2 separate regions of the Homo sapiens genome follow, and region 1 is linked to region 2. Evidence: fine-mapped expression QTL. A gene starts in region 2. The other region holds a variant in brackets. All regions are shown on one strand. Distances are from middle to middle. Region 1 holds the start of ITIH6 (inter-alpha-trypsin inhibitor heavy chain family member 6). Region 2 holds the start of TRO (trophinin).

Evidence for each region.
Region 1: its variant is fine-mapped to the expression of TRO in adrenal gland (GTEx, PIP 0.97).

Annotation. Positions count from the first base shown.
Region 1 is chrX:54,796,632-54,802,015 of GRCh38, forward strand. It overlaps ITIH6 (inter-alpha-trypsin inhibitor heavy chain family member 6), which reads right to left and starts at 1,624. Exons shown (of 13, transcript NM_198510.3): 1 at 1,478-1,624; 2 at 311-465. The coding sequence starts at 1,579. The variant T/A (reference allele first, on the strand shown) is at 3,204.
Region 2 is chrX:54,918,075-54,923,397 of GRCh38, forward strand. It overlaps TRO (trophinin), which reads left to right and starts at 2,750. Exons shown (of 13, transcript NM_001039705.3): 1 at 2,750-2,804; 2 at 4,129-4,217; 3 at 4,504-5,323. The coding sequence starts at 4,173.

The DNA.
Region 1 (5,384 bases), 120 kb before region 2:
TGAGATTGTGCCACTGCACTCCAGCCTGGGCAACAGAGCGAGACTCCATGTCAAAAAAAAAAAAAAGAAAGAAAGAAAAAAAGAAAGTGGGTTCTAATTTTATCCCCATTTTGTAGATATGTAAAATGAGACTCCCAGAAATGAAGTAACTTGCCCTGGGTCCCAAACTGGCAGAGCCAGGATTCAGACTCAAGAAGTCTGATCTCAGAGTGCATTGTCTTAATCACTATGCTCTGCTGACAGAATAAGCACAAGAACGAACAAATATATGCACAAATGAATGAAGTGGTGACTTTGGAAGCAGACTTACATAGTGAAATTGGAGATAAAGGCAAGATGAGGCAGATCCAGGTCAAAGATGGCTTCATGGGCTTCAGCATGTGGATTAAACAGGACAGAGGTGACCAAGGTGTGGGCATAGCGAGACACCACCGTGGAGCGCATAGAATAGCTTGTCATTAACAACTGAGAGAGAAGACAGGAGGAGGTGTTTTAGGTAGACTATGTCCTCAGCCTAGATGGGCTAGTCTTTGGGAACCCAAGATTCCTACACAGGCCTCAAAGTATACAGGTGGATAAACTAAGGCCTAGAGAGGGAAAACAACCTCTGTCATCCATTTGGTGGATCTGCCTGATTACTTCAGCAAGCTTTATCAAGTCTCAGAACCCAAGACTCACAGAAGATTAGAGATCAAGGGACCTCTCTGGACAAGCACTTCTCTAACTTTGATGTGCACATGAATCTCCTGGAAAGCTTGTTAAAATGAAGATTCTGATTCAGCAAGACTAGGGTGAAGGCTGAGATTTTATCTTTCTAAAAAGCTCCCATGGAATGATGCTGCTGCTAGTCCACAGATTTCACTTTGAGTAGCAAGGCTTTAGAATATAGCAGAGCATCCGCCATTCATTGAATCCTACTCTGTCCAAGGCACTGTGATAAATACTGATTTTTTTCTTCTTTAGGATCTCAGGTGTAAAGAGTTGCACTTATAAGCACAATCATGCACTGCAAGCATGGTAAGTATCTGGCATCCATGATGAGGGCACACAGCAAGTACAATATCTATCTTCTTCCTCTCCTTTCTTGAGGCAATGGTCCCTCTATCTACCCACACGTGATGCAGAGCTAGTTCCTTCCCAGTGTGGGGCAGTGGGAAATGAGGATGATTTGAGATCAGACGGTTCTGCCACTTCCTAACTGTGTCTTAACCTTGGAACCTCTGTTTTCTCTTCTCTATAATGGGGATAATAATATAGCCCAGCTCACAGAGATGCTGTGAGGACTAAATGAAATAATAATTCTGGGACCCCTGGTGCAGCACCTGACATGTGCTCAGCAAATAGTACCTCTTTTCTCTGGCTCTAGTTTCTCAGTCATAGGACTGAAGAAACACACTGAATAACCTTCCCAAATTTCCCCCAAGAAGCTAATTTTATCACAAATCCCCAAGCTTTTTTCCCTCATCCCAGAACTGACCTTTGTGCTTGATGAAGCGGGGACAGGGGGTCCCTGGTATGTCAGTTCAAGAAGAATGGTCAGCAAAAAGCTGACACAGATGAGGTACCTCCACCCAGACATGATGCCACCTCTGGCCTGGATCTGTTGTTCACATCCAGAAGATCTGAGCCCGATCTCCAAACCCTTGCTCTTTTAAACCTCCAGGTATCCCTTCTCTTGAGAGGGAGGGACCATCCTGAAGGGTGGGGAAGGCTCTGAATGTGGCATTGAGGCTCACACAAGCCAGGATTGTCCAAGAGCTGGGGCTGGCATCTTGCCTGGAGAAGGGCCAGTTCTACGCTTCCTTTTTTCCCCTCATCCAGCTGTAAGATGAATGGAAACTAAACATACCAGAGTGCTGGGTCTGTCTGTTTGCTGTGTTGGCTCAGGGTGGGGTTTTTCTTTCCTATAAACATCCACAGGAGCCCAGTAACTGGGGCCAGAGAAAGGTCACTTAGCACTGATCATCTTAAAAAGGTAGTGGCGATGAGAGAGGGATTGGCAAGGCAAGCCCCCAATACTGGTCTTCCCTGGTATTATTGACTTTAGCCTAGTGCCGGGAGGGACTTACTCAGGATCCTATAACAATTTAGGGGTCCCATAGACATAATAAGACTTACAATCTCTAGAATAGCCAGAGGCCAAGACAGGCTGGGGCAGGACTGAGAAAGAATATAACACAGTGGTTTCAAAATACAGGCTCCAGACCCAGACCACATGGGTTTGAATCTCAGTTCTGCCACTTACTGACTGTATAATACTGAGCAAGTTAATTAACCTCTCTGTAGCCTCAGTTTCTTCATCTATAAAATAAGAATAGTAATAGCACCTACTTCATAAAGTTCTTATGAAGATTAAGTGAGTTTGTACTTTTAGAATGCTTGGCACATGGTAAGTGATCAGTAAATAGCTGCTAGGAGGAGGGCAGGATGAGGCATGACAGAGATCAAAAGTCTGGAAAGCTCCCTGTCCTCTGAGACCTGAGTGGAGGGAGAAGGGAGGAGCTGAGGTGCTCTGGACTCAGGATCTGCAGGTCCTGTGGAGGGTGGGGGTGAGGAATGGGGCTGAGAAAAAGGAAAGTACTTGAAGGTCTGCACAAGGACTATCAGCCTCAGTCAGAATCCTGCCGACCCTGGCCCTCCGGCCTCTACCCATCCACACAGGGAGCATAGACAGCTCCAGTACTTACTCTCAGGGGCAAAATCTCTGATGACATTTTACAAACTGCCCCAGGAACACTCAGATTTGTCCTAGGGCATTTGGCATCCCAACAAAGTCTTCTCATTCTGGCATCTGTGGGTCCCAAAACCTGTCAGTTGCCACCTCGCACAAGTCCGCACCAAGTTTCCTCTCAGGATTTCCTCACGAGGGAGAGTCCTAGCTAGAGAACAGCTCTGCTTATACAGCAACAGAGAAAACTCCCATCGGCTACCCAGTCCTTTTCTCTTAAATATGAATGAGTAGCCAAGGAGCCTCAAGCAAATTAAGGAAGCCTGTAGCATGAAAGCAAAATACTAAAAGAAACAAATAGAACAACTGACCCTAGAGCAATTTGAGGATCTGGGAAACAAAAGAGAACTTCAGGGGAAAAATTGATACTATTCTGAATAAGATTCAAGAAGATATAACATGCATAAAACAAGAACTAGATGCCATAAAACAGGAACAATCAGAGAAAACAGAGATTCCTTAGAAATTAAAAATA[T/A]GTTACTGAAATAATACATTTTCCAGGACCAGGAAATGAGGAAATCTTCCAGAATGTAGGGCAAAAAAGCCAAGGCAACAGAAAATGTGAGAGAAAATTTAAGAGAGATGGATTAATCTAGCAAATTAGACATTCAAATAATAGGAGTTCTAGATAGAGAAAACAAAACAATGAAGGAAACTTTATTGAAAACATATTAGGCCAGATGTGGTGGCTCACATCTGTAATCCCAGCACTTTGGGGGGTTGAGGCGGGAGGATCGCTTGAGGCCAGGAGTTTGAGATCAGCCTGGCTAACATAGTGAGACCCTGACTCTACAAAAAAAAGTAAAAAGAAATAGCCAGTCGTGATGGCTCTCATCTGTAAATCCCAGCTACTTGGGAAGCAGAGGCGGGAGGATTGCTTGAGCCCAGGAGTTCGAGGTTACAGCGAGCCATGATTGTGCCACTGTACTCCAGCTTGGGAGACAGAGTGAGACCCTGTCTCAAAAAAATAGATATATTAGAAGTTATAATAATTTCCTACACCTGAAGAAGGATCTCCAGACAGGTGCCCAGAACAGTGAATCCAGGAAACAGTGAAGCCAGGAAACAGTGAATCCAATTCAAGCAATAACTGCAGCAGCCTCCTTACTGGTCCTCCTGCTTCAGCCTTCATCATCCCCTTTTCTGCCTCCCACCAGTATATTTTTACAACAACCAGAGGGATCCTTTTGAAACCCAAGTCAGATCCTGTCCCCTTTTTGCTCAAAACTCTCCTGTGGATCCTGCTTGTGGCTTACATGGCCCTATGTGAGAGGGGTCAGTGAGGCAAGCCCTCATTACCCATCTGACCCCATTTCCTATTACTTCCCTTCCTGCCTTCCTCCATCACTCTAGCAACTCTGGCCATTGTGTTCTTCAAAAGTGCCAGGCATGGGGAAAAAATGCCAGGCATGATCCTGTCCCATGGCCTTTGCAATGACTGTTCTTTCTGCTTGGAATGTTTTCTCACCAAGTATCCACTTGACTAGTTCTCTCACCTTATGCTAGTCTTTGCCCACATGCTACCTTTTCAGTGAGTGTTTCCCTGACCAACCTATTTACTTATTTTTTAACTTTTTTGTTATTGATACATAATATTTGTATAAATTTATGGGATACACTGATATTTTGTTACATGCATAGAATGTGTAATAATCAAGTCAGGGTATTTATGGTATCCATTGCCTTGAGTATTTATCATTTCTATGTGTTGGGAAAATTTCAACTTATCTTTTCTAGCTATTTTGAAATATACAACACATTGTTATGACAAGCCTATTTAAAACTGAAATTTTTCTCCATAGCACTTATCACACATTTTAATTTGGATACATTTTACTGATTTATCTTATTATCTTTTCTCTCTCCCTTACTAGAATCAGCTCCATGGGGGCCAAGGATTGCTATCTGTCTTCTTCACTGCCTAGCCTAATCTCCTAGAACAGTACCTGACACGTAGTAGACACTCAAAAAATACTTGTTGAATGAGTGAATACAATAAAAGCATATAATTCAAGGAAAAAAGAAAGGCTTTTAGAAACTCTGTGTGTGTGTGTGTGTGTGTGTGTGTGTGTGTGTAATTATTCAAGAAAGTCTTGGCCAAATACAAAGCAAAATAAAATGTAATATGATTATGAGCAGCTGATAAGAGTATAAGAAAGATTCCATTTGACCTTGATGCTAGAAACATTCTCCTCTGAGAGGCCCAAAGATTGTGACATTGAACTTGAAGAGAAGGAAGCGTATTCCAGGCTCACTGCTTGGCTAGATTTTGAAAAATATTTACATAGCCATGATAATGTGAATGCTGTTTATTGGGTTTCAGGTCATAGAGTCAACCTGGGGAGACAAAGCAGGGAAGATCTGATTGTGGCTGCAGAACAGAATGTAAATGTTAATAACCAGGGCAATGTAAAAGGAAAGATAAAACTGACAATGTGGGACATTGAATGGGCAGGGGGAGGGTTGTAGCCATAATATCCTTGTCTTAAAAAATGGGGAGTCAAATTATCTGTCAAAATGGATGGAATACAAAATAGAGGTCTGAGTATATTTTTTTCAAGTTATAAAATTAACCAAAAACAAAAAAGGAACATCAGTGTTAACCATTGCAGGGGAGTAGAGGGAAAAGTGAGGCACAGTACATAAACAAAATCCT
Region 2 (5,323 bases):
AAATAAAAGAGGATACAAAGAAATGGAAGAACATTCCATGCTCATGGCTAGGAAGAATCAATATCGTGAAAATGGCCATACTGCCCAAGGTAATTTATAGATTCAATGTCATCCCCATCAAGCTACCAATGACTTTCTTCACAGAATTGGAAAAACTACTTTAAAGTTCATATGGAACCAAAAAAGAGCCCGCATCACCAAGTCAATCCTAAGCCAAAAGAACAAAGCTGGGGGCATCTCGCTACCTGACTTCAAACTATACTACAAGGCTAGAGTAACCAAAACAGCATGGTACTAGTACCAAAACAGAGATACAGATCAATGGAACAGAACAGAGCCCTCAGAAATAATGCCGCATATCTACAACTATCTGATCTTTGACAAACCTGAGAAAAACAAGCAATGGGGAAAGGATTCCCTATTTAATAAACGGTGCTGGGAAAACTGGCTAGCCATATGTAGAAAGCTGAAACTGGATCCCTTCCTTACACCTTATACAAAAATTAATTCAAGATGGATGAAAGACTTAAACGTTAGACCTAAAACCATAAAAACCCTAGAAGAAAACCTAGGCATTACCATTCAGGACATAGGCATGGGCAAGGACTTCATGTCTAAAACACCAAAAGCAATGGCAACAAAAGCCAAAATTGACAAGTGGGATCTAATTTAACTCAAGAGCTTCTGCACAGCAAAAGAAACTACCATCAGAGTGAACAGGCAACTTACAGACTGGGAGAAAATTTTTGCAACCTACTCATCAGACAAAGGGCTAACATCCAGAATCTACAATGAACTCAAACAAATTGACAAGAAAAAAACAAACAACCCCATCAAAAAGTAGGTGAAGGACATGAATAGACACTTCTCAAAAGAAGACATTTATGCAGCCAAAAAACACATGAAAAAATGCTCACCATCACTGGCCGTCAGAGAAAGGCAAATCAAAACCACAATGAGATACCATCTCACACCAGTTAGAGTGGCAATCATTAAAAAGTCAGGAAACAACAGGTGCTGGAGAGGATGTGGAGAAATAGGAACACTTTTACACTGTTGGTGGGACTGGAAACTAGTTCAACCATTGTGGAAGTCAGTGTGGTGATTCCTCAGGGATCTAGAACTAGAAATACCATTTGACCCAGGCATCCTATTACTGGGTATACACCCAAAGGACTATAAATCATGCTGCTATAAAGACACACGCACACATATGTTTATTGCGGCATTATTCACAATAGCAGAGACTTGGAACCAACCCGAATGTCCAACAACGATAGACTGGATTAAGAAAATGTGGCACATATACACCATGGAATACTATGCAGCCATAAAAATGATGAGTTCATGTCCTTTGTAGGGTCATGGATGAAATTGGAAATCATCATTCTCAGTAAACTACTGCAAGGACAAAAAACCAAACACCGCATATTCTCACTCATAGGTGGGAATTGAACAATGAGAACACATGGACACAGGAAGGGGAACATCACACTCTGGGGACTGTTGTGGGGTGGGGGGAGGGGGGAGGGATAGCATTAGGAGATATACCTAATGCTAAATGACGAGTTAATGGGTGCAGCACCCCAGCATGGCACATGTATACATATGTAACTAACCTGCACATTGTGCACATGTACCCTAAAACTTAAAGTAGAATAATAATAAAATAAAATAAAAAAGACTTGTTTTTGGCCTAACTTATGATCTATCCTGGAGAATTTTCTATGTGTGCTTGAGAATATTATATATTCTATTGGATAAAATATTCCGTAGGTCCTTTTTGTCTAAAGTGTATTTCAAGTTCAATGTTTCCCTATCGATTTTCTGTCTGGATGATCTGTGAATTGTTGAAGATGGGGTCTTGAAGTCTCCTACCATTATTGTATTGCAGTCTACTTCTCCCTTCAGATCTATTAATATTTGTTTTATATATTTAGGTGCTTCTATGTTGGGTGCATATATTAAATATGTTTATAATTATTCGATATTCACGATGAATTTATCTCATTATCATTATATAATGACCTTTAAGATCTTTTATGGTTTTTGACTTTAAGTCTATTTTATTTGACATATGTGTAGTTATCCTTGCTCTCTTTTGAATGATTGATGGAATAGATAAATGTCATGAATTGTTTTCTGCATGGGGGCACAGTGCACCATGTCACAAGAGACAGTCTAAGTACAAACTGATATTGTTAAAACATCAATATAGTCATTGTGGGATCAATAAAAACTTTTCATAGATTTTTATACATTACTGTTTTTATTCTGAATTGCATAAGATGGACGGGCACCCTATCTTTTAGTGTTTAGAACCTCTAAATGTTTTAATGTGGTAACACTTGAAAAACAGAAATGAATATGACCTAGTCCCCTGCTCCAGAGCAGCTCTAGGGAAGAGAGACATAGACACAAGGTATAACAACACTATGTAAATAGTGTTGGGATAGAGGGTCTGTAGGAAGGGTTGGTGTGGGAGTTCAGAGAACTACATTCCTCCTAGGGGAAACAGGAGAATCAAATAGGAACGGAGATACAGAGTGGGGAATAGAGAAGTCAAATGGAGAATAAGAGGGAGTGATAACTGAATAGGGGTAGTAAGAAGAAAAAGGGAGCTACATTGAGGAGAATGGAAAGTTGAAAGTAGGTATGGAGGGGAGGAGACTGACAGGCAGGAACGGAGACCCCCCTCTGGAGGCGGAAAGAGGCAGGACCACTTCCGGCCAGGGAGGGGGATAGGCTCAGACACAAGGAGAGGCTTGGAGAGAGCAGACGCCTTCTGGATTCAAGAAGACGAGGTGAGCTGAGGTACCTGGCTTTAGTGAAGACCCTGTGGGGGCTTCCTGGCTGCGGCTTCGACGTGCCTGACTCCACACGCCCCTAAGGTTTGAAGAAAACCTGCTGGAGGTTTGGGACCTAACCGCATCAAAGTCGCCTTTAGCGGTGCCTGGACCCAGTTCGCACGGGAGGAAGTAGGAGGCAGAATCCCCTTTGGGCCACAGAAAGTAACGATCTGGACTCGGTTCGGGCCGTGAAAGGGAGGGATGCAGACCTAGTTGGGACCGCAGAAAGGAAGGATCGAGAAATCCTTCAGACGGTAGCAAGAGGGGAGGAGGATACACACAGTTCGGGAGGGAGATAGGAGACGGCAGGACTCCGTTTAGGCTGGAGAAAGGGGGCAGTACCCCGTTTGGGCCACAGAATGGAGGGATCGGGACCCAGAGATAAGAGTGGGCAGCATCCCTTTTGAGCAACGGAAAGGACCAGACTCAGACAGGAGAAAGGAGGGGATATGACCCGGTTGGTTCCGGTTTGAAAGGGAAGAGACAGGACCTGGTAGGGTTTGAGAACAGGAATACACAGAAGGTTCATACAGTTGGATTTGGGGGTGAGGTATTCATGTTGCAGAAAGGGCGGAGCTGCACACTTGCAGACGTGGAAAGAGGGGGGAGTGGTGTTGGTTGGGGAAGGGGTGGTGCAGAGACGTACCGCAGAGCGGAGGGAGGGGGCTTATTAAAGGAAGGGAAGATGAAGAGAAATGCTGCAGAGCGGAGGGAGGGGGGTGTATTGGGAAGGGGCGGTGCGTGGCAGTACCGCAGAGGAGAGATGGGCGGTGTTGGGGTAGGGGCGGTGCGGAGTGGTACTGCAGAGCGGAGGGAGGGGGCTAGTGTTGGGGGAAGGGTTGGATCGAGATGTGATGCAGTTAGAAAGAGTGGGTCGGGGTGGCGCCAAGATGTTCTGTTGCTCTGAGAGCAGGGGGCAGATGTGGGATTGAGCTGGTTAGAAACTGTCCGGTTTACCAAGGCGCATGCGCGCGGAGGGCATTGAAGAATGGTTCTTTTGGGATAGAGGTGGGCCTAAGATGGGGGGTGGGGGCGCCTCTAGTCGGTGCGCATGCGCACTATCGAGTTGCGGAGGGGGCGTGTAAAGGGGTGGGGTCGTAGAACTGACTCTCTCGGAGGCAAAAGGAGCTGGGCCTTGGAAACCAGATGGCCTGGGTTTTTTAGGTATGAAAACCCAGGAGTTGAAGGGATTAGGGCCCAAGGTTACATGAGACTCCCCTAAGTCAGGATAGGTGAGATGTCTGATGAATCTCCCCCTCCCTCTCATTCTCTAACTCAGGCCCATTCCCCTCAGGCTCACCTGTTACTCGGCCTCCCAGAAAGATGGATAGGAGAAATGACTACGGATATAGGGTGCCTCTATTTCAGGTGAGGCCTCTCTGCATTCTCTCTAGGCCATCTGCCCCATCCTGAGTTCACTTACTGCTCTTCAGACCCCTTCCACCGTGTAGTTTCATAATTCCCTGCCTAACTCGTCTCAGTCCTCCCTTACATGGTGAAGGAGAGGAGAGGAAAACCTGCCTGACTCTATTCCTTCCTTGCTCCCTACCCCATTTTAATTAACCACTGCTCAGAGGAAGGGAAGGCCTTTGTGGAAAGGGATGGGCTTTAGCGAGGCCAAATGGCCCAGAGGATGGTAATCCTAAGTGTGTAGGGCCCTCTGCCTCCCCCGGGGAGCCTGGGGCTTCCCTTCCCTCCAGATATACAGACTGAGACCACAGAAGAGGACAGTGTCCTGCTGATGCATACCCTGTTGGCGGCAACCAAGGACTCCCTGGCCATGGACCCACCAGTTGTCAACCGGCCTAAGAAAAGCAAGACCAAGAAGGCCCCTATAAAGACTATTACTAAGGCTGCACCTGCTGCCCCTCCAGTCCCAGCTGCCAATGAGATTGCCACCAACAAGCCCAAAATAACTTGGCAGGCTTTAAACCTGCCAGTCATTACCCAGATCAGCCAGGCTTTACCTACCACTGAGGTAACCAATACTCAGGCTTCTTCAGTCACTGCTCAGCCTAAGAAAGCCAACAAGATGAAGAGAGTTACTGCCAAGGCAGCCCAAGGCTCCCAATCCCCAACTGGCCATGAGGGTGGCACTATACAGCTGAAGTCACCCTTGCAGGTCCTAAAGCTACCAGTCATCTCACAGAATATTCACGCTCCAATTGCCAATGAGTCAGCCAGTTCCCAAGCCTTGATAACCTCTATCAAGCCTAAGAAAGCTTCCAAGGCTAAGAAGGCTGCAAATAAGGCCATAGCTAGTGCCACCGAGGTCTCGCTGGCTGCAACTGCCACCCATACAGCTACCACCCAAGGCCAAATTACCAATGAGACAGCCAGTATCCACACCACAGCAGCCTCCATCCGAACCAAGAAAGCCTCCAAAGCCAGGAAGACAATTGCTAAGGTCATAAATACTGACACTGAGCATATAGAGGCTCTAAATGTCACTGACGCAGCTACCAGGCAGATTG